Homo sapiens: one gene and its partners. The protein of the gene in region 2 purifies or fractionates together with the protein of the main gene of each other region. This does not show direct contact. Each region holds a gene or a part of one and is shown on either strand. Other genes may lie near its edges.

Region 1 (4,077 bases), on a different chromosome or scaffold from region 2:
TGGTCTCGAACTCCTGACCTCAAGTGATCCGCCTGCCTCAGCCTCCCAAAGCTGGGATCACAAGCGTGAGCCACCATGCCCAGCCTTTTTTTTTTTTTTTTTTTTTTTTTTTTTAGATAGGGTCTTGCTCTGTTGCCCAGGCTGGAGTGCAGTGGCATGATCACAGCTCACTGCAGCCTCTACCTCCTAGGGTTCAACTCATCCTCTTGCTTCAGCTTTCAGAGTAACTGGGACTATAGGTGTGTGCCACCACACCTGGCTAGTTTTTAACCTTTTTGTAGAGATGGGGGTCTTACTATGTTGCCGAGGCTGGTCTTGAACTTCTGGCCTCAAGCAATTCTCCTGTCTCAACCTCCCAAAGTGCCGGGATTACAGTTGTGAGCCACTGTGCCTGGCCTGATTTAAATACAGTTTAATTGTGAGTCTTGGTGATTCCAGCCTGTGAAGGACAGAGTTAGGACTAACTGGCAGGGCATATTATCATGTGGCTCCCAGCTGTGCTGGAGAAGGGGCTGTCAGTCCATCCGCCTGTCTCTGGATAGGATGGATGTCAGCAGTCCTGCTAATGTCAGTCTTGTGGGCAACAGCCATCCCACTCTTGATTTTATTTTTATGTTTTTATTTTTTATTTTTTGGTTTTTTTTTTTTTTTTTTTTGAGACAGACTCTTGCTCTGTCACCCAGGCTGGAATGCAGTAGCATTTAACTGACATGTCAGTTAAAATCAAGAGTGAAGGCCAATCTCAGCACTTTGGGAGGCCAACGCGGGCAGATCACCTGAGGTCGGGAGTTGGAGACCAGCCTGGCCAGCATGGTGAAACCCGGTCTCTACTAAAAATACAAAAAATTAGCCAGGCATGGTGGCAGGCACCTGTGATCCCAGCTACTCGGGAAGCTGAGGCAGGAGAATCGCTTGAACCTGGGAGGCAGAGGCTGCAGTGAGCCAAGATCGTGCCACTGCACTCCAGTCTGGGCAACAGAGCGAGACTCCATCTCAAAAAAAAAAAAAAAAAAAGGCAGCAAAGGCTAGGCACAGTGGCTCACGCCTGTAATCCCAGCACTTTGGGAGGCCAAGGTGGGCAGATCACTTGAGGTTAGGAGTTTGAGACCAGCCTGGCCAGCATGGCAAAACTCCGTCTCTGCTAAAAATACAAAAATTAGCCGGGCACGGTGGCCATATGCCTGTAATCCCAGCTACTCAGAGATTGAGGCAGGAGACTTGCTTGAGCCCAGGAAACGGAGGTTGCAGTGAGCCGAGATCACACCACTGCACTCCAGCCTGGGCAACAGAGCAAGACTCTGTCTCAAAGAAAACCCAAAACAAAACAAAAACAAACAAAAAGCCTGTCCCTGGCTGATGCTGATAAGACATGTTACTTAGACTCTGGTTGTATTGGGAAGGTGCTGCAGCCAGGACACCTGTGTCTGGCCGGGACATCTGTCAATGGGACCCCGGTTCTGGAAGGAGATGGTCAGACCCCCATGTTTAGCTGGGGTGCTGACAACTGAGGGTGTCACACTCACCTGGTGCTGCCGGTACAGCAGGGGGATGGTGAATAGACCAATCACTCCTGTGGGTACAGAGATGGGGGCGTCAGGGTGTTCCCAAGAGATGAACAGTTCCATCTGGAGCCCTGTCCCCCACCAGACTCCAAGTCCCCATTTGCCCCTTACGGCCTTCCCAGCTCACCCAGAATGAGAAGAGTCAAACCATTGAAGATGGCACCCACGAAGGTCAAGATGTAGAAGAGGAGGGCCAGCTGGGGGTGAAGGTCAGGGTCAGCAGAGCCCACCGGGAATTCCCTCTCATGCTGTGAATTTACCCAACAGTCGCCCTCCCACCCCCTAGCCATGCAGAGGTGAATGGGGGAACCCAGGAGGGGCTGAGAGCTCCAGGCCACCTTGAGGGAATCCACGAGGTCTTCTACCAGGAAGAAGTGCCGCAGCTGCGTGGCCGCCGAGACCACGCGGGAGGTGATCTGGTGGGACAAACGTTCCGTCTGCTCCCGAGTCAGGGTGAGGTCCACATCCAGGTAGGCCCTGCGGGGACAAAGGAGTGTGGGGCGACTCAGTGGGTGACCAGCTCAGACTGGTGCAGGGGCAGCTGAAACAAGGGAGAGGAATGGCGGTTGGGAGAAGACCAGAGTTAGGACTGAGGGGCAGCTCAGAGGAATCATATGTAGAGGGCTGGGGTCAGGGTCAGGGTCAGGGGAAGGGATCGAGGATGAAGGGTACCAGGTTAGGATCAGAGATTAGGATTGAAGGGTAGGTTAGGGGATCGGGATGAAAAATGATCAAGATGAGTCGGGGTCCGGGTGGGAGTCGGTGCCTGATTTGAGGTCGTGGGTCATGCTTTAGGGTCAGGACAGGGGCTCAGGTCAGGGGCCGGGGGTTCTCACTGGAAAGGGTTGGCTCCATCCCCCCGGTGCACGGCCTGCAGCACTTTGCGGTAAACCCTGAGAGAGATGGTGCCGCAGAGCAGCAACAGAGCCAAGTGCGCGGCCACGGACACGATGCTAAAGTGCAGGAGGCAGAGGAGGGAGACCATCAGGCCTGTGAAGACCACTCCTGACGTCCTCGTGTCCTTCCAGTACAGCAGGTCCGCCACTGTGGAGGGGTGGGGGGCATCAGGGCTTGTACCTGACCTGGCTGGTCTCCTCACCTCCCTTTCCCTGTCCTACAGCTGAAAATGACTTCTCGACACACCTGTTTGAGCATAACCTGATTTCCTTTTTTTTTTTTTTTTTTTGAGAGACAGGGTCTCACTCTGTCACCCAGGCTGGAGGCAGTGGTGCAATCATAGCTCACTGCAGCCTCGATCTCCTGGGCTCAAGTGATCCTCCCACGTCAGCCTCCTCAGTAGCTGGGACTACAGGTGTGCACCACCACTCAGCTAATTTTTGTTTTTGTTTCTGTTTTTAGAGGTAGGTGGCTCTCACTGTGTTGCCCAGGCTAGTCTCGAACTCCTGGCCTCAAGTTATCCTCCTGCATCAGCCCTCCAAAGTGCTGGGATTATACGTGTGAGGCACAGCACACAGCCCGATTTGCAATTTTTTAAAAATTATTTTATTTTATTTTTATTTTTTTCTCTATTGCCCAGGCTGGAGTGCAGTGGCGCAATCACGACTCACTGCAACCTCCGCCTCCCTGGTTCAAGCGATTCTCCTGCCTCAGCCTTCTAAGTAGCTGGGATTACAGGCATGTGCCACCATTCCCGGCTAATTTTTGTATTTTTAGTAGAGACGGGGTTTCACCATGTTGGTCAGGCTGGTCTCGAACTCCTGACCTCGTGGTCCACCCGCCTTGGCCTCCCAAAGTGCTGGGATTACAGGCATGTGCTACCGCGCCTGGCCTTAATTCATTATTTTAAAGAGCTGCATAGTATTCTGTGTTGTGGCTGTGCTCCTGTGCTCTCATTCATTTTATTTAACCATGTACCTATTGCTGGGTCATTCAGTTTGTTTCCTAACCCCTTCACCGCAAGCAGGGCTGCAAGCAACATCCTCCAACAGATATTCTCACCTCCTGGAGTGACTATTTCTGAGACAGATTCCCAGGGTGGAATTGCTGGGTGGACTGGTTGTGTGTCTGTGTGTGTGTGTGTGTGTGTGTGTGTGTGTGTGTTTTGTTTTTGTTTTTATTTTTTTTGAGACGGATTCTCGCTCTATTGCCTAGGCTGGAGTGCAATGGCACAATCTTGGCTCACTGCAACCTCCGCTTCCTGGGTTCAAGCAATTCTCCTGCCTCAGCCTCCTGAGTAGCTGAGATTACAGGAGGGCTCCACCACACCCGGCTAATTTTTTATATTTTGGTAGAGATGGGGTTTCACCATGTTGGCCAGGCTGGTCTCGAACTCCTGACCTCAAGTAATCCTCCCACCTCGGCCTCCCAAAGTGTTGGGATTACAAGCGTGAGACACCACGCCTGACCTTGGTTTGTTTGTTTGTTTTTTTTTTTGAGACAGAGTTTCGCTCTTGTTGCCCAGGCTGGAGTGCAATTGTGCAATCTCGGCTCACTGCAACCTCCACCTCCCGGGTTCAAGCGATTCTCCTGCCTCAGCCTCCCGAGTAGCTGGGAT
Region 2 (4,077 bases):
CTTTTAGGTCTTTTAGACAAAGGTCAAGATCTCATTCCATTACCTAATCTATACCTACAGGACAACTATTTGATATCGGACCCCCCCCCCAACCTTGGGCTCTAAAAGTTTTTCAACAAAATAGCAGTTTCCACACCCCAGTGACTGCACAAGGTGATCTGTTGGCATGTGAAAGGAAAATAGTGAAGCTTCTATTTATGTTTATTTTATTTAAAACAGTAAATTAAGCCCTAGAAATATTTACAACTCAGATTGATGAAACCACCCATGTATAATATTCAGATAACTACATGTCATATACAGTATCTGAGATACCCTGAAAAACAGTTCCAAGTTTCAGACTACTGCAATGTACGGCAGTTCACATGCTACAAGATGCCATCAGTGTGTGGTTAATTTTACAAACACAAGTAGTTAATGCTAAATGCTCAAAAATACGTTGTAGTAAATTCAGGCATAACCACAAACATTTTTTGTATCACCCAAAGGTTATTGGTTTCCTAATGGCAAAGTGCTTAAAAGACTTTTTGAACTTAAACGTGTTGCACACTTTCCTTTTGTAGGATTTCTCTGGCTGCTATGCTAGGAACAAATTAAACAGAGGCAAGGGCAAATGTAGTGAGACTAGCTAAGAGATCATTACAGTCATTCATCTAGGCAAGAGAGCATGGTGTCTCTGACCAAGGTGCTAGCTCTGTAGATGGTGATACTTGGTTGGAAAATAGAGCCAACAGAAGTTCCTGACATGGATATGGGGTAGGGAATGAGAAGAAACAAAGATGACTCCAGTATTTTAGGCCTGCATAATTGGAAAGATAAAGTTGTTATTCACTAAAATGGATAAGATGTAAGAGGAATAAATGGGGAGGGGAACAATGATGAGTTTGGTTGTGGACATATTAGTTTGTGATGCTTATTATAAATCCAAGTAAGTGTGTCAAGCAGGCTGAAATTTAAGGAGCTCTGGTGATATACATTTAAGAGTCTTAAGCTCATAGTTGATGTTTTAAGCTGTGAGATTGTATGAGGCCATCATGTTAGTGGGTGTAGATGGAGAGGAACACTGGGGCGTTGTGATGTTTAGAGGTCGGAGAATGAGAAAGAACAAGCAAGGGACAATAGAAAGGAAAAGCTGAGTCTGAAAGGAAACTAGGAGAGTCTGATGTTTGGAAGCCAAGAAAAGAAAGTATTTCATGAAGGACGAGTGATCAGCTGGTGTCAAATGCTGTTGATAGATCAAGTAAGAAGAGTACAGTGAATTGACTGATAGATTGAGCAACATGGTAGTCACTGGAGTTCTTGACAAAATTAGTTTCTGTGATATGTGAAGAGGGCAGAAGCTTAGTTAAAATAAATTTAAGGGTAAATGGGACAAGAGAAGTTGGAGGAATTTTGCTGTAGGGAGAGCAGAAAAAAATGAGTGGAGTTTGGATGAGGATGAGAGATCAAAGAGGTTTTTTGTTGTTGTTGTTGTTGTTGTTGTTGTTACGTTTTAATGTGAGAGAAATGACAACACGTTTTTCTATTTCCATTTGATGGAAATGTTTCTGTAAAATGGATGAGGCATAATATGTAAGAGCGAGGAGAGAACTGTTGCAGCAATGTCCCTGAGTAGGCAAGAGAGGATAAGATTTAGTTCATAGATGGCTTGGATAGATGCATGGACAATTTATCCATAGTGACAAGACAGAATAACAGTATACCTGGACACAAATGCCAATGAGTTGTTGATATTGGAACTTCTTTCCTCCGTACTTCTATTTTCTCTTAAAATATGGAGGCAACGTTATCAGTGGAGAGTGAGAATGGGGAAGAGTTATTAGATGTTTGAAGAGAAGCTAAAGGTATGAAATCATCCAGTAGAGGAGAGTGAATGGACTGGGGAAACATGGGCTGTTTCCAGAGCAACAATGAAATCCACTTGAAGGCAGTGGCTGTGAATTTAAAGTAAGACCTTTCAAAAAATTTTATGTTTTTCTTCAGATATATTCAACAGTGAAAGAGACAGAGCAGTTGGATTTAATCAGCATTGGAGGTTTTCCATAGTCGAGCTTTTGTCATTAGAGTATAATGAAGATAGAGAGAAGCAAGTGAGTGAGTTTATGCGAGGGAGGTGTTAAAGCTATAGATCTTGGAATTTAGTTGTGGAAGGAAGGAAAGAGAGGCATCCATCATTGAATGATGGATTGAAAATTAAGTGGTATGACATGATAAGAATATCCAAAGATGTGTTCTTCCATTTTAATCTATATTTGTTTGTCGGGTAATTTTTCAGTCATGATGGTCAAAATCATGAAACAAGGTAAATTAACATATCAAACTTCAAATTGCTGTATCACATAGTGTTAAGCTCAGATTAAAAAATAAAATAAATGCATTCACCACGTTATTAAAATATTTTACTTATTTTAGTAATGTTTATGACATATTAATGATTATAGAAAATATAACATTTTGGTGAAAGCAAAATGGTTTTGCATTGTGAGAGTTACATTGAATATATTATTTGGCTCACCCTTATAAATATATATTTTGTGTATCTCTTTAGTGTACATATTATTAGTACTTGTATATAGTATAATAATTAGCATACAAATGTTGGGAATTATACTGATAATATGTTATTGAAAGGGAGGTGCAATTAAAAAGTCTGAAAGCCACTATTCTAGGAAATAAATTTTTTGATTCCCTACACTTGTTTTTTTTTGTTGTTGTTGTTGTTGTTGTTGTTTTTTGAGACAGGGTCTCATTCCGTTGCCCAGGCTGGAGTGCAGTGGTGTTATCTCAGTTCACTACAGCCTCATCCTCCTGGACTCAACCAATTCTCCCACGTCAGCCCCCTGAGTAGCTGGGACTACAGGTGCATGCCACCAAGCCCAGCTATTTTTTTTGTATTTTTTTGTAGAGACAGGGTTTTGCCATGTTGCCCAGGCTGGTCTCAAACTCTTGACCTCAAGCAATCTACCCGCCTCAGCCTCCCAAAGTGCTGGGATTATAGGCGTGAGCCACTGTGCCTGGCCTCTTGCAATTATTTCATCCTCATTTTGGTGTTTCCTGGAGGAGATGTTGAAATTCAATTTAGTTCAACCCATGATAGGGACGTGACAAAGACTCCCTTAACCCCAATTTCCTCATCTATAAAATGGGAGAAATAATAGCACCTAGCTTGTTGAAGTTGTTGGGGTTAAATGAGGTCGTTTTTAATAAGGGCTTTGCCTAGATATCCTGCCTGGACCTGTTCAATAAATATTAGCTGTTTGGGTGATGATGGTGATTGTAATGAAGAATTGAACTACAATTTAAGCATCCATATTTCCAACATTGTACAGCATTGTAAGCATGAGAAACAAATGTAATTTTTGGTCCTTGCTTCTCAAGAAGTTTATAATCTTTCTAGAAAGACATGATTACACACCCAAAGCAATTTGGTAACAATCTAAATATGAATGAGTGCCAAAATACGTGCCACAGATAGTATCTGCACCATCTACTAGCATGTATGAGATGTGCTCAGAGAAACCTAAGCTATAGACAACCTAAGTCCAAACTAATTTCCAGAGTCAGAAATTCCGTATAATATACTGCAGGCTGCTTTATGTCTATTTAGCGCTACAGAGACCATCACTGTGATACTCTCTAATTATTGCCACCACTAAAAATCCATCTAATTGCAAAATCATAAATTTGGCTCTGAGATATAGTGTTTGATTGAGAGAGTGATATAGGTAGGCAAAGACTATCCATATTGTTAAATGGTCTTGTTAAATTTTTGCCCATTATTATCTCATTAATAGTAATGGGGCAAATATTAATCACTCCCCTCTACTGGGAGCTACTTTATGTCAGATACTCTACTGTCTCATTAATCCTTAGCACAACTCTACAAAAATTAGGTTGCTCATTTTGCAGATGAGGAAATGAGGATGAGAGGGATTAAGTAACTAGCCTAAGGTCATGCAGCCAATAAAAGGCAAGAATGAGATCTACACCCAGCCTGTCTGGGTCAACACTCTCACCTCTACCACTCTGTGGGGTAAGTTTCTATTTATAATTCTGCTGATGTTTGGAAGTAGTAAA
Region 3 (3,209 bases), on a different chromosome or scaffold from region 2:
GGAGGGCAGCTGAGCCAAGGGTAGTCGGATGGAGGAGAAGGCCGGGTTGGGGGGTGGAGGGGAAGGCCAGGTGGGGTGGGGGGTGGAGGGGAAAACCAGGTTGGGGGGAAAGCCGGGTGGAGGGGTGGAGGGGAAGGCCGGGTGGGGGGCTGGAGGGGAAGGCCAGGTGGGGGGCTGGAGGGGAAGAAGGCCGGGTGGGGGGCTGGAGGGGAAGGCCGGGTGGGGGGGTGGAGGGGAAGGCGGGGAGGGGGTGTGGAGGGGAAGGCGGGGAGGGGGTGTGGAGGGGAAGGCCGGGTGGGTGTGTGGAGGGGAAGGCCGGGTGGGTGTGTGGAGGGGAAGGCCGGGTGGGTGTGTGGAGGGGAAGGCCGGGTGGGGGGGTGGAGGGGAAGGCCGGGTGGGGTGGGGGGTGGAGGGGAAGGCCGGGTGGGGTGGGGGGTGGAGGGGAAGGCCGGGTTGGGGGGTGGAGGGGAAGGCCGGGTTCCGGGGGAAGGCTGGGTGGAGGGGTGGAGGTTGAGGGGGGGAGGGGGGTAGGGGGCTAGGGGTGGAGGGGTGGAGGTTGGGGGGTGGAGGCTCGGCCTGATTACTTAGCCTGCTTGCTCAGGAGCGTGACGTTGACGTTCCCCAGAACCAGGCTCAGGTACAATCTAGGGAAGGGGGTGGCGGGGTGAGGAGAAGCCCGAGTGACAGACAAGCCACCGGTACTCAGCCAAGCCTGCCAGGCCAGAGCCTGGGCCACCACCCCACCCCCTCACCCGCTGCTTTCCGCAGGGCCTTGGCATCGGGTTCTGACCTTGGAGGCTGCAGACCCACTCCCTGCCATGCCCAGCCTTCCTGGCCGCCTGCTCCGGAATCCTGACCCCCGGAGGAAACAGTGTTCCCCCCCATCTCCAGAGTCTTGTCTGAAACTCCCCCACCTCAGGGCACCAAGAGAACCCGGCTCTCCCTCCCTGCTGAGGGCCGTCCCCCTGTCCCCGATTGCTCCCCTGTGCGATGGCCACCACCTACCCCCCAGCTCCCTGCCACCTCCCCTCCAGAACCTGCAGTACTAGGTTCCACTTCAGAGACCCACACGCCTGGCCACATCTAGGACGACCTCCCAAACCAGAACAGAAACTCAGAGCTCTGACTGTGGGCTGACCCCAAGTACTCAGCCTCCCGGGGCGTTTCTTCCCACCACGACCCCCCTTGTCCCTCACCGAGGCCCCCACGCTCTCCAGTCCCAGATCTCATCAGAGCTGGCTGAGTCCCCAGGCCACCCGCCAATTACACCACTTTTTTGCCAATCCCCTTCATGTCCAGCCTCCACACCCACCAACTGAGATCATCTTGCCCTTCTCTGCCAGAGATACTCCAAGAGGTGACAGCAAAGTCACGGTCACTTTCTCAGCACCTGCCCCAGACACATGGGCTCTTGTTCACACTCAAGCCAAACAGACAGAGGCTCAGCATGGTTAGGCAATTTGCCCCAAGGCCACAAAGAACTTCTGGGACAGCCATGCTTCTCCCTCTACAGAATGCTCCCGGCACAGTGCTCCCCAAGCAGGCCAGCTTCAGCCTCCACTGCCAACCCACCAGGCTGCGGATGTGTCCCCACTCAGCTCGCCATCTGGTTCCCAGCACTCGCCTCTCCACATCCTCTCCCCGAAACCCTCTACCCTGTCTCCTCCCACCTCGGGCCCCACCTGCAACACTGCAGAGAAGACAGCCTGACTCCTGCTCTATGGGGAGCACTATGCCAGGAGCACTGTGCCGGGAGCACTCCTCACTCTCATCTCTGCACCCTCCATCCCCCACTAGCCCTTCTCGCTCTCCCCAGGCTTCCCTCCATCACCTCCTGCCCTTCTCCTGGGTCTTTCCCCTCTCGGCCCCTCTTCTCAGCAGGTGGATGTGCTCGAGTCTTCCCAGAGGCAAAGTAACCCCACAAACAGGCAGTAGCTGCCCCTCAACCCAGTGCTAATTTCCAGTTCCTAGTTGCTAATTCTCTCCCTCCACTCACAGCCAAGCTCTAAAAAGTCTCCCAGAGGGCTGGGTGCGGTGGCTCACACCTGTAATCCCAGCACTTTGGGAGGCCGAGGCGGGTGGATCATGAGGTCAGAAGATCGAGACCAGCCTGACCAACATGGTGAAACCCCATCTCTACTAAAAATACAAAATACAAAAATACAAAAATTAGCCGGGTGTGGTGGCGGGCACCTGTAATCCCAGCTACTCCGGAGGCTGAGGCAGGAGAATCGCTTGAACCACGGAGACAGAGGTTGCAGTGAGCCGAGATCAAGTGACTGCACTCCAGCCTAGCGACAGAGTGAGACTCTGTCTCAAAAAAAAAAAAAAAAAAAAAAAGTCTCCTAGACTTGGCTGTCTCCCTTCCTTGGCTCTTCTGTCATCCCCAAGATCGACATCCATCCCCTTCCACCAAATGGTTCTGCCAAGATGACCCAACTTCCAGGAAGCGCATCCCCTTCCTTATCACAGGACTGACCCCAGGCTACGGACACTCCTTTCTTCTCCCTGCCTTCTGGGCCACGCCCTCTCCCAGCTATCTCCCTGCCTGCAGCCTCTGCTGGGATTTTTTGCTCAGCAGGGGGTTTTGCACTGCCCCATCCGTCCTCCTGGGTGACAGCTGCTGGCCTTTCCAGGTGCACATTCCACCGCCCCCGCCCGCCTACTGGGCTCAAGGCAAGAGCTGCAGCCCAGCAAAGCCTCTGATCTCTTGGCTGCCTCTCACCTCCCGCCCCGACCTCTGGCCACTACAAGTTCTCATGGCCCGTCCACCTGCTGCTACCTCTCGCCCTCAGCCCATGTGTCTGCCTCATTTTTTTTATTTATTTACTTATTTATTTTTTAAGACAGAGTCTCACTCTGTTGCCCAGGCTACAGTCCGGTGGTGCGATCTCAGCTCACTGCAGCCTCCGCCTCCCGGGTTCAAGTGATTCTCCTGTCTCAGCCTCCCAAGTAGCTGGGATTACAGGTGCATGCCACAATGCCCGGCTAATTTTTGTATTTTTAGTAGAGATGGGTTTTACCATGTTGCCCAGGCGGGTCTTGAACTCCCGACCTCAAGCGATCTGCCTTGGCTTCCCAAAAAAGTGCTGGGATTACAGGCATGAGCCACCGCGCCCAGCCTATTTGTTCTTTTTAAATAAATAGAGACATAGGGTCTCAGTATGTCACCCAGGCTGGTCTTGAACTCCTGAGTTCAAGTGATCCTC
Region 4 (4,077 bases), on a different chromosome or scaffold from region 2:
GAGATGAGCCACGAGGCCCCGATGAGCAGAAGCATGCGGCAGCTCTTGTCGCTGCCATACAGCTTGACCTTGGCAATGGCCACGTGGCGCTCAATGGCGATGGCCAGGAGGCTGAAGACAGAGGCCGAGAGCGTGATGAAGGCAGAGCCCTCCCGGGCAAACCACTGCACAGGCGTCAGCCTCAGCGTGACAGAGCCAGAGAGCAAGGTATTGGCTACGAAGGCCACGCCTGCCAGTAGATCGGAGGCGGCCAGGTTGCCCAGAAACAGGTACATTGCCGAGTGGAACTTGCTGTTTCGGGCCACCGCAATGAGCACCAGAAGGTTTTCCACCACAATGGCGCAACAGAGGATGACGATGAAGGCCGAGGCCACCTGGCGGGAGGTCGTCTCCTGCGTTTCCAGCGTCTCCTTGGTATAATTATAGTGTTCCTGGACCTTGTTGGGGTTCAGGTACTCCGAGTACAAGCTGCCCATGGTGGGGCTCAGAGGCCTGCTGGGGCCATGGGGCTTTCAGAACTGCAGAGAAGACAGACAGACAGACAGACAATAGGTCAGAGCTGTGGCTGCTACCTGGGCTCTGGCCTCGGATGGGCTGAGATTCAATTTCCTGCTCTGTTACTCTTCGAGGAAGGGCCACATGAATTCAGAATCATCATCATCCCCACTTACAGACGGGAAACCCAGAGAGATTAATTCACTTTCCTAAAGTCTCAAATTTAACCAGCGGCAGGGCCAGAGAGACTGGCTCTGCGGCCTCTATAAGCCCTAGGCTACGCTCTTTCTTATTTATTTTATTTATCTATATTTTAAAGACAAGGTCTTGCTCTGTCATTCAGGCTGGAGTGCAGTGGCGCAATCATAGCTCCCTGCAGCCTTGAACTCCTGGGCTCAAGTGATCCTCCCACCTCAGCCTCCCACCTCAGCTTCAGCTACAAGCACATGCCACCACGCCTGGCTAATTTTTTTTTTTTTTTTTTTTTTTTGAGATGGAGTCTCCCTCTGTTGCCAAGGCTGGAGTGCTGCGGCACGGTCTTGGCTCACTGCAACCTCCTCCTCCTGGGTTCAAGTGATTCTCCTGCCTCAGCTTCCTGAGTAGCTGGGATTACGGGCACCTGCCACCAGGCCCAGCTAATTTTTTTTTTATTTTTAGTAGAGACAGGGTTTCACCATGTTGGCCAGCATGGTCTCGAACTTCTGACCTCATGATCCGCCTGCCTCGGCCTCTCAAAGCGCTGGGATTACCAGTGTGAGCCACCGGGCCCAGCCGCCTGGCTAGTTTTTTTGTTTTTTAGAGATTGGGTCTCACTGTGTTGTCCAGGCTGGTCCTGAACTCCTGGCTTCAAGCAATTCTCCTCGGCCTCTCAAAGCAATGAGATTACAGGTATGAACCATGACATCTTGCCTCTTTTAATTTTCATTATTATTTTCTAGAGATAGGGTCTTGCTCTGTCACCCAGGCTGGAGTGCAGTGGCATGATCATAGCTCACAGTTGTCTCTACTCCTGGGCTCAAGTGATCCTCCTGCCTCAGTCTCCTGAGTAGCTACACGCTTTCAAAGGGAAAGAAGCTCCCCCAAATGGCATGAAAAATATAATGTGGACTTCCAGAAACCTTGCCCACCTACCCAGAGAGCAAGCCCTAGGCAGGTCCTGGAGGGTTTGTCTCTTTTCTGGAACACACAGGCGCCTGCGCCCTCATGCTGACCTGGGTCAGGGAGAGTCTCACCACTGATAGCTCCGTGCCCTGCTCATTCATTACCACCCACTAACGCTGGATTTCAGGCTGGGTCTAAGCCTTGAGGCCACGGGTGCTCCCAAGATAAGGTCTTGGGGAGACACCAGGGCGGCCCTGAGATTCAAACATCCCAGAGGTCACACCATCTTCAAGGACACAGACCTTGAAGGCAATCCAGAATTTGCTCCCATTCCACCTCTGAAACACTGGGCAAGTCCCTAGACGCTGTCTCAGCCTGAACCTCCTTATCTGTGCAATAGAGAGAAGAAAGCCCACTTCATGGGGGTGATGGGAAAATCCTTTTAAATGACGCATGAGGCACGTTTAGCTCATAGTAAGCACTCAACAAATACTGCCAAATGTTATTAGCTCCCCTCTTTCCTCCAGTCCTTTGGGAAGGGAAGGGATGTAAGCCAACCAGACGAGATCTCCAACAGCCTGTTCTCATCAGCACCATCTAGCTCTGCCCTGGGACAGAAGGTCCTGCCGGGATGGGCAGGGCGCTGGCACCCCCTCCCCAGCCAGGATGAAATCCAGATGTGAGGCCCCTGGAACAAACAGGGTGGAGTCCTCACTCTGCAGTCACATCCGGTGTGAGGAAGGCGGGATGTAGGGGGAGTCAGGATGGGAGAGACCCCATCTGGGAGGTCCTGGCTGGGAGGATGGGGCAGCTTTGCTGAAGTCATGTGAGCCGTGAAGGGGTGTGCAGCCCCGCCGGGAGGGGGTAAGGCATTTGTTCCATGAAAACCTGAGTCACCCCCCCAACCCCCTCCCATCCCTCCCCTCCACCCTCTTCCATCCCTCCCTCTACCCCCTCCCATCCCCCCCCATCGCCACCCACCAAGGAAAACTGAGCCGTGGTGGGAGGGGGCGGGGAGAGGCGCTCCTCGGCAGAGAGGATGAGAGGCAGACACCATGGCCTTCCCCCAGCTTGGGGGTAGGGTTAGGGGTTGTCAGAGGCGCCAGTGCAGTGTATGCCTTTCATGAAGGGAGAGGAAGTTCCAGCCTTAGCTAAATGGGAGGGAGGGGGGAGAGTAGGGGGAGTCCTCCTCAGGTCCCTAGAAACACGTCTGGCAAGGACTGTGTGCACCGTTCCAGAAAAGTCTGGTTAGGCCAGTTCTCCTGAGCCCAGGAGTGATGGAGGTTTCCGGAGTCACCCAGCCATCTCAGTCCCTGGCCGCCCCCTCCAAGGGGCATCCTGGCCCCTGGCTGGATAGAGGCAGCTGCTCCCCCAGGGCGGAGGGACATCCGTCCTAGTTTGGGAACAGACAAGGGCTTGTGCACGTCCCCGGGGACTGCTGCCCCTCCCAGATAGCCACACAGAGGCCCCTTGTTCCCTTGCTGGACGCAGCCCCGGGCATCTTGATGCCCTCTGCACGCTGCAGCCAGTCCCAGGCAGGCTTGGGCCCAGGCTGCGGCTGGATCAGACACAGCTGATGGGCCGGAAACAGCCCATGCTCTGATTGGCTCATTTTCAATCCAAGGGCACTGAGCAATTTGCCTATTGGCCCGGGCTTTCCATCTTCTGCCTCTGATTGGTCCAGTTGGGGGCGCTCTACGGCCAGCCCTACCGATGGGGTCCTTTATAGGCGACGGGAGCTCAGGCTTTCTGAGGATAGAGTTAATGCTATGTGGACGTCCCTAGGGGGAGTTTGAACCGCAGCCTGACCTCTGGGTCACCCCGACCAGACACCCCCAGGCTGCCCTGGCCTGCTGGGCCCCTCCTGGGGTTCATAAGTGAGAATCAAGGTCCCTTTCCAGGCCTGGGGAGCACGCTGTGCAGTGCAGCCGCCCCCTCTGCTGCTCACCAAGAGATTTGCTGTGGCTTCCTGGATAAATAAGAAATGTGTTTAGGCCGGGCGCAGTGGCTCATGCCTGTAATCCCAGCACTCTGGGAAGCCGAGGCGGGCCTATCACCTGAGATCATGAGTTCAAGACCAGCCTGGCCAACATGGTAAAACCCCCCTCTACTCAAAAAAAAAAAAAAAAAAAAAAAATTAGCCGGGCATGGTGGTGTGCGCCTGTGATCCCAGCTACTTGGGAGACTGAAGCAGGAGAATCGCTTGAACCCGGGAGGCAGAGGTTGCAGTGAGCCAAGATCGCAGCCATTGCACTCCAGCCTGGGTGACAGAGCGAGACTGTCTCAAAACAAAACAAAACAAAACAAAACAAAATGAAATGTGTTCAGCCCTTGCACCCCAGGGACTAACTAAGCAGTCTGTCTTTTTCCCTGAGAGGAAGACTGGGGGTGCTGCACTCTCACCTTCTGCAGCCCGGGGAGGCTAAGGCATTCACAGAGGGAGAAGCAGCTCTCCTAGAGAAGGGGAAACTGAGGCCCACA
Region 5 (4,077 bases), on a different chromosome or scaffold from region 2:
AAGTAAAACTCTGTCCTGCCCCGCATCCGGATAGAATAGCAGACGCAGATAAAGTCAGTGCAAACGTAAAAGGAAACCTCCTTTCTCCCAAGGTCACGCTGTCCCCATAAAGTGTCATTACTCCCCTAGTGGAATGACGAGTGCTTTCTGACTCACTGAGAAACTTTGTTGTCTAAAATCAGACTGTTCAGAAACATTGCTGTTTGAAATCATTTCAGTAAAAAGAAAACACCCCACTCTCGCGTGGAGGCTCAAAATCATGTTAACACAAAAAAGTAGCCTCAATTTCCAACCCAGGCACAGAGCTTCGTGGGAGCTCCTGGATGTGGCATTTTACATCTGTCCACCCTCAACATCCTTCTTAGCCTTGAGTTTCCAAAGGAGGAGCACCAGGTCCACGTCACAGCCCAGGCCTGATGTTGGGCCCCTCACTCACAGATCTGCTCAGCGCCTATCAAACCATGATTTCGCTTAAATGTCACCTGAACCCCACCCTTCTTCAAACCTTTATAATAACTCTTCTTCCTTTGCTGAGGCATCCCACAGCCTCTCTAGTCTCTCTCACTGCGACAGGCCAATAAACACAACTGCAAACCCACTGGCCTACAGTCCTGTCTCTGGTGGTCTCAGGCTGATGGGGCCAGGACAATGGTCTTGGCCGACAACTTGTGTAGGCCACATATTTATGGGGAGGCCCTGGTTAGTTTGTAGCAAGGGAATTAGTGATCAGATTTACTTTTCAGGCAGATGGCAGTGGATGGAGACAGGTTAAGGTCCTCTGAAATGACACAGAGGACAAATGGCAAGAAATGAATTCAGGGCTGGGCACGGTGGGTCACGCCTGTAATCCCAGCACTTTGGGAGGCCAAGGCGAGTGGATCACCTGAGGTCAGGAGTTTGAGACTAGCCTGGCCAACATGGTAAAACCCCATCTCTACTAAAAATACAAAAACTAGCTGGGCGTGGTGGCACGCGCCTGTAGTCCCAGCTACTTGGGAGGCTGAGGCAGGAGAATCGCTTGAACCTCGGAGGTGGAGGTTGCAGTGAGCCGAGGTCACGTCACTGCACTCTAGCCTGGGCAACAGAGACTCCATCTCAAAAAAAAAAAAAAAAAAGGAAGAAAGAAATGAATTCAGGTGGTGGCATGGAGGATTGGGAGGAGGCAGAAGCTATAGGACCAGGTGACTGACCAGATGTGGGAGGGAAGGAAAGATGGAGTCGAGGATGTGACAGGGACAAAAAGGACAGGTTACTGGGAGCAAAAATGGCTGAGGCCACGGAATTCCACCCATTGCGATGGAATGGAAGGCAGAGGAGCAGGCTCGTGGGAGAACGAGAAGAGGTGGCCAAGCCTGCAACACGCATGCGTCTCCATGTCCAGTGGAGTCACCTTCTCCTCCAAAGCCCTCTTGACTCTCCTACTTGAAAGTCTCCCTTCCCCCGATACCATCTGGCTCTGTTCCCACCCTCCACCCTCTCCGAGGGCATTCACTTTCTCCAAACTCCCAGCTGCTTCTCTTTGGTTCTACACTCAGCTAATGGTTGCCCTGTCTTCCTAGGGAAGGGCCCCAGGACAGAAACTCCTTCCACCCTGGGGGCCCAACAACCCCTGCCATTTCTACAGAACCCACCCATCATCGTATCTCCCACTGCTCCCACAACGCAAACTCTTCATCACAGACCTTCACCATTATTTGTTTGGATCATGTCCATAACTCTCCCCTCTTCCTCTCCCAATTAGTTAATTTCCCAAAACTAAATGCCCCAGCAGAGAACACAAGGCCCTGCGCACGCTGACCCTGGGCCAGCCCGCCTCTCGATGCCATCATCTCACTGCATCCCCTCCCACCGCAGTGGCGTAAAGAGACTCTGCGGGCCCCAGCCCCTAGGAACAGGCTCTGCTGCACCTCTGTCTAGGATCCCCTGCCTTCCTTCCCAACCTTGGAAACTCCACGTGTCCTCTGTAACCAAGTTCAAAGCTCCCAACCCCTCTCAGCTCGTGGCTCCTACTTCCATGCCTTTCCCTGTGCCCCAGAGAACAGGAAAGAAGACTTTCACACTCATTGTCCTCAGCAGGTCACATCAGACCCTGAGGTTAGGGCCACCACAGTGGTTGGGGGACTGAGTCCAGGAGAAGGCCTTGCAGGGTGCTAAGGCATCCATGCTGCCTTAGCAAGGGTCTAGATCAAAAGGAGACAGCCCAAAGCCGGATGAAATGTGTGGGTTTCCTTCTCTCTAGTCTACACCTATTTCTGATATGTCATTCTATGCTAATCGGGATTCTAAATATTCTTGTTTTGTTGATAGAGTAATATCCTGGCCGGATGCAGTGGCTCACACCTGTAAGTCCAGCACTTTTGGAGACTGAGGCAGGAGGATTGCTTGAGGCCAGAAGTTTGAAACCAGCCTGGGCAACATAGCAAGACCCCATATCTACTTTAAAAATTTTGTTCTAATAGAGGAATATCTTAACTTTAAGAACACTGCATAGGTGGGAAACTTCCTTTCTTCCTCCTCCCCTCCTGGCCCTTCCTGTTGCACATGCCTGGAGAGCCCGCCAGTGTGGCCGGGATCCATTGCCGAGTACCCCTGTTTACCTGGACTTATCTGGAAGAATGTAGAGAGTCCCACATATGCTGATTTCATAAATCCACCCCTACCAAGCCATGGCCTTTGGCCCTGACTGTTTAATCACAGAGGAGGAGTTCTGGCTGACGTTAGGTGTCATTAGAGTTTGAGCTCTTACATCCTCAATGAGAAAAGTGGGGCCATTCCGACAGAACAGAGCAGACAGTTTGGTTCCCTCTCTGCCAGACGAGCTGCCCCCAGCCTGCGCTCTGTCTTAGGAGCAAATGGGCATGCACCCTTCTTTCCAGGACGCTGGTTAAAATGCAGAGCCAAGGAACACTGCGGCTCTGAGCCCACCCTGCCAATGACAATATTTCCAAGTGGGAATTGGATAAGAGTTTTCCAGAGCCAAATATAATATGTTCTTTCCTTGACATCACTTAACAAACCTCTTGACATCCAAGTTCTGTGTGCACAACACTGAAAAAATATCTTTCAGTGGCTCCCAGCAGTGAGCTCCCTCCACCCTGGGGTCCCTGGTCCTGGAGTATCTTCAGGGCCCCCATTCCCAGAAAGGTACAAACTCCCATTAGCCTCCCAAAGGAAGAGAACAGTCAGTATTACCTGGTTGAGCAAATATTTAACTTGTAACATATAAAGAAAGGTTGCCTACAAGAGAACAAGAGAGATGAATGTTAATGTTTCAGCCTTGCCACACAGAAGTGAGGTCACACGGCAGGGAGCTAGGAGCCACAGCCAAGGTTCGGCTGCCCTCTGCTCCCGCACGGAGCCACAGAGGCTGTCGTCTCAGGACAGGGCTGGGGCCAGGGTGTTATGGCCCAGGGGCTTCCCACATCTTCTTTATGGGTGCATATGCCCCAAGCATATTCCCTCCATCTGGCAAAAGGAGGTGGAGTTTCCCTGGGTGAATGGCCAGGACTCTTCTGGGGACACTGGCATGGAAAGGAGGCCCCAGGCACACTCCAGATGGGCACCTCCATATAGACTGGTCCTATGTGGTGGAATCATGAAAGACTGTCACATTTACAAGGTTTCAGGATAAGTAAGCGAGCACACTGCCAATTCTGAGGGCAAATGGTGTCCCTAGATCCGTATGTTGAAGCCCTAGTCCCCAGTGTGACTATTTGGAGGTCCTCAAGGGGAGATTAAATTAAAATGAGGTCATTAGGGTGGGGCCCTAATCCAATAGGACTCGTGTCCTCATAAGAAGACAGGGGATACCGGGGGATGAATGCACAGGGGACAACCTGCAGAGGGTGGCCGTCCACAGGCCAAGGAGAGAGGCCGCAGAGGACACCAACCCTGCTGCACCTTGACCTTGGACTTCCAGCTTCCTGAACTGTAAGAAAATAAACTTCTGTTGTTTAAGCTCCCTAGTGTGTGGTATTATATTACGGAAGCCCCTGCAGACTAATTCAGCTACAGCCTCCAGCTGAATAACAAACACTTAGCTCTCAGGCCAGGTGTGGTGGCTCACACATGCAACCC
Region 6 (4,077 bases), on a different chromosome or scaffold from region 2:
AAGGCTGCCCAGATCCAGCCACTTCTCCCCACGGGCGCTACCACCTCCCGGGTCCAAACCGCCCCCATCTCTCACCCGCGGAGCTGCAGCGACCTCCTAACAGGCCTCTCCGCTCCGACTCTGCCTCCCCACCCACATCAATGTATTAGCCGTGGCCAGATGGAGTTTTACAAAAGAACAGAGGCCAGGCATTATGGCTCACACCTGTAATCCCAGCACTTTGGGAGGCCGAGGTGGGAGGATCACTTGAGCCCAGGAGTGTGAGACCAGCCTGGGGAACATAGTGAGACCCAGTCTCTAAAAATAAAATTGTTTTTGAAAGTTATGAAATTAAAAAAAGAACAGAATATATCATGCCCCTGCTGAAAATCTGTGACCCTTTCTAGTCTAACCTACCATTAGGATTCATTGACCTTATCTAGCCCCTGCATAAGCTCTGCTCAGCCCTGCCCCAACTTCCTGTGCCCAGGGCCTCCCTGCAGTTCCTAAGCACACTCACTCCTGCCCCAGGCCCTTTGCATCACTGCTCCCTCTGCCTAAGAACAGTCTCCTCTGGCATCTTCATCCACCAGACTTCAGCCCTTCAGTCAGATCTCAGTTCAGCTGTCACTTCCTCGGGTGGCAGCACCGTCCCCCACACCCACCCCATCCACCCTCCATCCATTCATGCTCCTGTACTTTCTCAAAAGCACTTCTGAACTTGAACATGCACTGTGCTACCCACTCTGTCCACGGCAGCCACTCAGCACGCATGGCTGTCCATCCCGCCCTTGACATGGGGTGAGTCCAAATTGGGATGCAAGTATAAAATACATTCCAGATTTCTAATACTTGCTAGCAAAAAAAACAAAAAAAAAACCTCATCAATAACACTTGAAATGATCCCATTTTTGATATATGAGGTCAAATAAAATACATTATTAAAAATAATTTCACCAATTTCTTGTTACTTGTATTAATGCAGCCACTAAAAAATTTTAAATTGCATGTGTGCCTTGCATATTTTGATTTATAGGAAAGTGCCAGCTTAGATAACAGTATTATGTCAATGCCAAATTTTCTCATTTTGATAACAGCATTATGGTTATGTAAGAAAATGTCCTCGTTTCTGAAAAACACCCACTGAGTATTTGGAGGTAAGGGGGCATACAGCCTCCAACCTACTCTCCGATGGTTCTGGAAAAAGACACTCGGCGAGAAGAGGGGGTGGGGGGCTTAACACGGCTAGTGAACCTGGGTGAAGGGGAGACGGGGGCCACTTGTATTTCTCATGCAACTTTTCTTTAAGTTTAAAATTCAGCTTTTAAAGTCAGCTGGGTACAGTAGCTCACACCTGCAATCCCAGCACTTTGGGAGGCTGAAGCAGGAAGATCCCTTGAGGCTAGGAGTTCAAGACTAGCCTGGGCAACATAGCGAGATCCCCATCTCTAAAAAATTAAATAAATAAATAAGTAAAAACTTAAAATAGTAAAAAGTGGCCACACAGAGCAAAAGCACTGTCACTCTCTGACACTCTAGTGTTTGTGCATTTGCCTGAGTTGCCCTGATAGGACACAGCCTCCTGGGGAACGGAGACTTGGCCCACCCTCTCACTACCGGGCACCTGGCACACAGTAGGGCTTCACAGGGTTTGCTGGGAGGGCAGATAAGTCAAGGTCCACATGAGTGAATTCCTAAGTAAAGGACTTTTCCAGAGTGACCAGAATGGAACACGACACAGCAAGGCCTCCAGAAAAGGGCTGTAGGAGCCACCCACTGTCTACTCTTACCCCACAACTGGGACCATGGGACACAGAGCTGAGCCTGAAGGGGCCAAGCAGAGCCAGCTGATGTCTCAGCACCCAGATGGTCATGGGGGCCACCAGCCAGACGCCAGAGGGAGCCCACCTCTCGCCTCCATTTTATGGCCCCCTGTGACTTGACATGTCCTGCCCCCTCCTCCCAGCCCAGCACCACCTGGCTGCAAACCACCACCAGCAGCCTCTCTTTGGGCTGTGTAGAGGCATTGGCAGCTGGAGTTTGGCTTTTGGTGGTGTGACCAAAGAGAATTCAAGCTGGTGCCAAGGGCTACTGAGTCAAATCCACGATGAGTCAAAATGCTTTCCAAGTGCACAGCCAACACCACAGAATTTGGCCATGAGCTACCCAGGAAACCCAGGAGGCCCCGAGTCCCAGTGATTACCGGCAGGCCTCCGGGCTGTAGAACTCCAGCGAGGACTCAGGAGTCATGAAGGGCGGCCACATTTGCCCAGAAGTTCCATTGATCATGTTGCACTGATCGGAATGCCAGAAGTCAACCTGGGGGGAAGCATCCAGACTAGACCCCTCAGTAGGGCCAAGGCCCCTTAATAAGCCCTCTCAGGTGCTGCACACCTAACTCACCCTGGTGCACGCACGGCCACTCAATTCCCAATACTGGCACGGTGGGAAGAGGGCAGGCTATGTAGACACACAGAGAGAATGCCTACCACAGCTTCCCCCTCCCAGACCCCTGAATGTGTAACTTCGCTAGGGACTCAGTTCTTTCATCTGCAAAATAGGCCTATCACCCACATTTCCAGCCTGAATCTGGAAAAGAAGTGTGGTGAGCAGGTGAGGTGAGAGGTGGGGCGCGGCTGTGCTCAGCCCTCAGAGCGGAAGTCAACAGGCACCTCCTGAAAACAATCGGCACACAGGCAAACTACTTAAAATCATAATGGTGGCCACCACCGGGCAACCCCAAAACAGAACCTGTCAGGTTAACTGACTCTGGGGAGCGAGACCCAGACTCGACAAAACCAACTGCTCACTTTCCAATCTTCTGTATGATGAGGATGTTTAAAATCACGTGCACATGTACAGTATATTGGAATATACAAGCCACAATGAATGTGAACTCCATCTATCGTGAATGGCTACTGCCAGTTGCAGATGGTGATTTTTGCCACTCTGGGCACCGGTTGGGGTACGATTTGTCCCTAGCCCTCAGGGTCTTTGCAGTAACTACCACGGGGAGTGGGGAGTGGGAAGTCACACAGTCATTTTCACACATATTGAGAAAAGGTCACGAAGGTGAAAAAAGCCAGTTGCAAAACAATGCACGTAGTATGATTTCATGATGTTCAAAGAAGAAACAATTCCGTATTTCTCTGCGTACATATAGGTGTGCACATGGGTAAAAATGGATGGGAAGAATATATCCCAAACTGATAATTGTGGGTTTCCTCTGGGGCAAGGGGTAGGGGTGGGAGGTGATACTAAGGGCACTTATCTCCCTCTCTTGTTTTATTTTGTAATGTGAATCTCTTCTCTTTTTTTTGGAGACCGAGTTTCACTCTTCTCACCCAGGCTGAAGTGAAATTGCGTGATCTCAGCTCACTGCAACCTTCACCTCCTGTGTTCAAGCGATTCTCCTGCCTCAGCTCATGAGTAGCTGGGATTACAGGCATGCAACACCACACCCAGCTAATTTTTTGTATTTTAGTAGAGACAGGGTTTTGCCATGTTGGCCTGGCTGGTCTCGAACTCCTGACCTCAGGTGATCCCCCCCACCTCGGCCTCCCAAAGTGCTGGGATTACAGGCATGAACTACCACGCCCGGCCTTCAAAACATTTTTGTAAGTAAAGAATCGAAAGGAAGAAAGCACTCAGTTCCCAGCAGATGCCAGGTGCTCAGTAAGCTCAGTAAGCAATCACTAACCCCACCTGCCCCTCTGGGTGGTCAAGCTTTAACCAGAGGTAAAATCCCTCCTCCAACTTCAAGAGTGTTCATCCTCCCAGCACCCTCTTCACGACAAAGGAAGAAGGAGCTCTCTGGTCCCTGCCACTCCCGAGCAGCCATGGCCGGGCCCACCCTCCCCTCTCCCTGGCGACAGGGGCCCTCGCCTCTCGCCCCTCACCTTGCTCAGCCCGTTCCACTTGTCCACGAGGTGGATCCTGCTGATGTTCTGGACCCCCGTGAACACCGTGAAGAGCCCAGAGTCGGAGTTGTTGAGCTACAGACACAGCAGGGAACAGCATCGTAAGGCTTAGGCCTGCCATTGAGCCGGCCTGGTCTGAACATTCTGGGCTGAGCCCTCCTCCCCCTCCACCAGAAGG
Region 7 (4,077 bases), on a different chromosome or scaffold from region 2:
TAATTTAGACTTGTATCGTAATATTATAAACAAGCTACTAGAACTCTATTTTTTTTTCTTTTATTGGATCTGATATTTAAAAATGGAACAAAACTTAAAAGGAGCCAGTGAACGGCCAGATAGTGCAGTGCATTCAGGCTTTAATGAAACAGTTCTGCTCCCAAGTATAAGCAATAATAGAGAAAACAGAGAGACAAACAAACAGACATTATCTAGATTTAACACAAGACAGACTTATGGAAGAGAAACTAAACAGAAATGTAAAATGGTAAGGAGGGCTGAAGCTACGGGCCTACTCAATTCTGGTTCTGTAATCAGGCAGTGACAGCCAAGATGCAGGCTTCAATGAAGTAACAAAAACGAAAAGTGCTCCATTAAAATGGAACCAGTTCAATGCTTGAGGCTGGGAATGAGGATGTGCCACCTTGACTCCTACAAAGAGATTATAAAATTTGCTGATGACAGTTTAATATTTTGAGAAAGTTACAGAACTAAGAGAGGGAGAGGACTGTGATAAGGCCTCCAGCCCAGGAAATGAAACAACTGACCGACTTGATGTGTGATATCCTTAATCTAACTCGCTGTTTTTGTGTGTGTGTGTGTGTTTTGTTTTTTTTTTTTTTGAGACAGAGTCTCACTCTGTCACCCAAGCTGGAGTTCAGTGGTGCAATCACGGCTCACTGCAACCTCAAACTCCTAGGCTCAAGCGATCCCTCCCACCTCAGCTTCCCAAGTAGCTGGGACTACAGGCGTGCACCACCATGCCTGCCTTTTTTTTTTTTTTTCTTTTTGATATTTTTTGTAGAAATGGGTTCTCGCTACATCTTGAGAGGCTGGTTTCCAACTCCTGGGCTCAAGCAATCCTCCTGCCTTGGCCTCCCAAAGAGCTAAGATTACAGGTGTGAGCCACCATGCCCAGTCTGACCCACTGTTTTTACACCTGATTCTTACCTAAGTGGTAGGTAGAGGGAACAGGGAGAGGCAACAGGACACCTATTAGATAGAGAGAGGGGAACATGGAAGAGGGAAAGGAGAGAAAACAGAACTCCAAAATTACTACTCAAAATGACCATCTCAAAAATGCCACACACATGAAGAAATAAAAACACTAAGAAACAAAGCCAACAAAAATCAGCAAGTATAAAACCCAATTTAAAAAAACTAATTTTATATAACAGCTCAGGAATGATTTTAGATATGTTAAAAATTATCAGAGAGAGAAATGAAATAATATCTGTGAAATAAAAATTGAAATTAAATAAAAACATTTAAATATTTTAAAAATTCCATTAGAAATCTTAGAAAAGGTGGCCACAGGCCAGGCGTGGTGGCTCATGTCTGCAATCCCAGCACTTTGGGAGGCTGAGGTGGGTGGATCACAATGTCAGGAGTTCAAGACCAGCCTGGCCAAGATGGTGAAATACTGTCTCTACTAAAAATACAAAAATTAGCCACGCGTGGTGGTGGGCGCCTGTAATCTCAGCTCCTCGGGTGGCTGAGGCAGAGAATTGCTTGAACCTGGGAAGCGGACAGAGGTTGAGGTGAGCCGAGATAGCACCACTGCACTCCGGCCTGGGCGACAGAGTGAGACTCCGTCTCAAAAAAAAAAAAAAAAAAGAAAAAAGAAAAGGTGGCCACAGCCACTGGAACCGTTTTTCAACTACCGGTCAAGAAGAAAATTAGCTGCTGTACACTAAGGAGCAGAATGGAAATACAGAACTTGGGAATTCTATTTTAAGTAATGGTTGTCGAGGTAATTAGATTAACCCTCCCAATGAACTAGAAGGGAAGGAAATAGGAAGGAATTCTGTTTAAAGCATTAGAGAACGAGGCACCGAAGAATTCTGGAGACAAAATCAAGGAGGAAAAAAAAAACCCAGAGAGCCAGATCTTTTCAGGCGTTTCTCTAGAAACCAGGGCCAATTCCAGAAGAGATGGTTGACAGGATGAGAAGCTGGGCAGAGATTTTAAGACTCCCTGGGCTAAGGAGCCATAAACTGGAGTTCAGAACCCTAAAGAGGAAAGCCATAGGGAACCCTCACACTTCAGATTGGGACCTTAAAAAGGGAAATATGCTAGTAGAAAGGGTGAAAAGGTTAACAGGAAATGGACTACCTGGCAGGAATGAAAACCAAGTTTTAAATCAGCTCAATCCTTTATTGGATTAAAGTGATTCTAGATTGTTAGTGGCCTAACATTCTGGTCAAAAGGAAAAGTCTTTAGAGAAAGATATCCTTAGGCCTCAAATCACATTAAACTGTCTATATACAATGTGCAGCTCTCATTAAAAAATAAACGGGCTTGGCTGGGCATGGTGGCTCACTCCTATAATCCCAGCACTTTGGGAGGCTGAGGCAGGTGGGTCACTTGAATCCAAGAGTTTGAGACCAGCCTGTCCAGCATGGCGAAACCCTGTCTCTACTAAAAATACAAAAATTAGCCAGGTGTGGTGGCGAATGCCTGTAATCCCAGCTACTCAGGTGGCTGAAGCACAAGAATCACTCGAACCTGGGTGACAGGGGTTGTAGTGAGCCGAGATTGTACCACTGCACTCCAGCCTGGGCAACAGAGCAAGACTCTGTCTTAATAATAATAATAATAATGATAATAATAATAATAATGATAGGGCTTACATAACAAAATTATGGGTGGATCATGAGGTCAGGAGTTCAAGACCAGCCTGGCCAAGATGGTGAAACCCCGTCTCTATTAAAAACTATAAAAAATTAGCTGGGTGCAGTGGCAGGTGCCTGTAATCCCAGCTACGGGGGAGGCTCAGGCAGGAGAATTGCTTGAACCTGGGTGGCAGAGGTTGCAATGAGCCGAGATCACGCCACTGCACTCCAGCCTGGGCAACAGAGTGAGACTGTCTCAAAAACAAAACAAACAAACAAAAAAAGAAACTTCAGATAATACAAAGAGCTCCAAAGGGGATCTAGATAATAGAGTTATTATAGACTTATTAGGCAGAAACTTTAAACAACTGTGTTGAATATATTCAAATAAAAAAGGCAAGATTGGGATTTTCCAAAAGAAAATAGGAACTATAATATAAAGCAGGACCAAATGAAGATTCTACAACTAAAAACAACACCAAACCAAACCTGAAATTATGAACTCAATGACTGTTTTTTTTGTTTTTGTTTTTGTTCTTAGATGGAGTCTCACTCTGTTGCCCAGGCTGGACTGCAGTGGCGTGATCTCGGCTCACTGCAAGCTCAGCCTCCTGGGTTCATACCATTCTCCGGCCTCAGCCTCCTGAGTAGCTGGGACTACAGGCGCCCACCACCACGCCCAGCTAATTTTTTGTATTTTCAGTAGAGACGGGGCTTCACCATGTTAGCCAGGATGGTCTCGATCTCCTGACCTCGTGATCCACGCGCCTCGGCCTCCCAAAGTGCTGGGATTACAGGCATGAGCCACTGCACCCGGCCTCAATGACTGGTTTAATACCAGATTAGACACAGTGAAAGAAAAATATCAGTGAACTAGGAAAGAGATGGGAAGAAAATACCCAGAATGAAGCATAAGAAACAGAAGGATAAATACAGAAAAGAGAGTAAGATACAGGGAGTATAGTGACATATGGGGTATATATGCAAGTTGAGTTAAAGGAGTAAAGTGACAATAGATAGAAACCATATTTAAAGAAATAATGGCTTAAAGTTTTCTGGAATTAATAAGAGGCATCAAAGTCAGATTCAAGTATCCCTGTGAATTCCACCCAGGATAATACAAAGAAGACCACACTGAGGCCTAACAAAGCAAACTGCTGAAAACTAAAACAGAGAAAAAATATTGAAAGCAACCAGATCAGGGGTGGGGTAAGATTCTTTTTAAAGGAGCAAAGAATAAGACAGAGATGGTGAGGGAGTGGTGGCTCATGCCTGTAATCCCAGCACTTTGGGAGACCTAGGTGGGAAGATCACTTGAGCCCAGGAATTTAAGATCGGCCTTGGCAACATGGTAAAAACCCATCTCTACAAAAAATACAAAAATTAGCTGGGCGTTGTGGCACTTACCTGTGGTCCCAGCCACTCGGGAGGCTGAGGTGGGAGGACTGCTTGAGCCCTGGGA

The links.
Region 1: the proteins of TNFSF18 (region 2) and RTN2 purify together in Homo sapiens (affinity purification with mass spectrometry; one large-scale study listed by BioGRID and IntAct). This does not show direct contact.
Region 3: the proteins of TNFSF18 (region 2) and TMEM120A purify together in Homo sapiens (affinity purification with mass spectrometry; one large-scale study listed by BioGRID and IntAct). This does not show direct contact.
Region 4: the proteins of TNFSF18 (region 2) and S1PR2 purify together in Homo sapiens (affinity purification with mass spectrometry; one large-scale study listed by BioGRID and IntAct). This does not show direct contact.
Region 5: the proteins of TNFSF18 (region 2) and SLC47A1 purify together in Homo sapiens (affinity purification with mass spectrometry; one large-scale study listed by BioGRID and IntAct). This does not show direct contact.
Region 6: the proteins of TNFSF18 (region 2) and SCARB1 purify together in Homo sapiens (affinity purification with mass spectrometry; one large-scale study listed by BioGRID and IntAct). This does not show direct contact.
Region 7: the proteins of TNFSF18 (region 2) and PEX13 purify together in Homo sapiens (affinity purification with mass spectrometry; one large-scale study listed by BioGRID and IntAct). This does not show direct contact.

What each region holds. Positions count from the first base shown.
Region 1 is NC_000019.10:45,486,948-45,491,024, forward strand, and holds part of RTN2 (reticulon-2), read right to left. Parts: intron 2,607-4,077; coding exon 2,399-2,606; intron 2,040-2,398; coding exon 1,901-2,039; intron 1,760-1,900; coding exon 1,690-1,759; intron 1,571-1,689; coding exon 1,524-1,570; intron 1-1,523. UniProt on the Homo sapiens protein: Inhibits amyloid precursor protein processing, probably by blocking BACE1 activity. Enhances trafficking of the glutamate transporter SLC1A1/EAAC1 from the endoplasmic reticulum to the cell surface.
Region 2 is NC_000001.11:173,044,176-173,048,252, forward strand, and holds part of TNFSF18 (tumor necrosis factor ligand superfamily member 18), read right to left. Parts: intron 1-4,077. UniProt on the Homo sapiens protein: Cytokine that binds to TNFRSF18/AITR/GITR. Regulates T-cell responses. Can function as costimulator and lower the threshold for T-cell activation and T-cell proliferation. Important for interactions between activated T-lymphocytes and endothelial cells.
Region 3 is NC_000007.14:75,988,581-75,991,789, forward strand, and holds part of TMEM120A (transmembrane protein 120A), read right to left. Parts: intron 645-3,209; coding exon 585-644; intron 1-584. UniProt on the Homo sapiens protein: Multifunctional protein involved in mechanosensation, and plays an essential role in lipid metabolism and adipocyte differentiation. May function as a potential ion channel involved in sensing mechanical stimuli.
Region 4 is NC_000019.10:10,224,430-10,228,506, forward strand, and holds part of S1PR2 (sphingosine 1-phosphate receptor 2), read right to left. Parts: intron 519-4,077; 5' UTR 477-518; coding exon 1-476. UniProt on the Homo sapiens protein: Receptor for the lysosphingolipid sphingosine 1-phosphate (S1P). S1P is a bioactive lysophospholipid that elicits diverse physiological effects on most types of cells and tissues.
Region 5 is NC_000017.11:19,550,584-19,554,660, reverse strand, and holds part of SLC47A1 (multidrug and toxin extrusion protein 1), read right to left. Parts: intron 3,238-4,077; coding exon 3,193-3,237; intron 1-3,192.
Region 6 is NC_000012.12:124,807,992-124,812,068, forward strand, and holds part of SCARB1 (scavenger receptor class B member 1), read right to left. Parts: intron 3,975-4,077; coding exon 3,879-3,974; intron 2,299-3,878; coding exon 2,183-2,298; intron 1-2,182. UniProt on the Homo sapiens protein: Receptor for different ligands such as phospholipids, cholesterol ester, lipoproteins, phosphatidylserine and apoptotic cells. Receptor for HDL, mediating selective uptake of cholesteryl ether and HDL-dependent cholesterol efflux.
Region 7 is NC_000002.12:61,023,885-61,027,961, reverse strand, and holds part of PEX13 (peroxisome biogenesis factor 13), read right to left. Parts: intron 1-4,077. UniProt on the Homo sapiens protein: Component of the PEX13-PEX14 docking complex, a translocon channel that specifically mediates the import of peroxisomal cargo proteins bound to PEX5 receptor.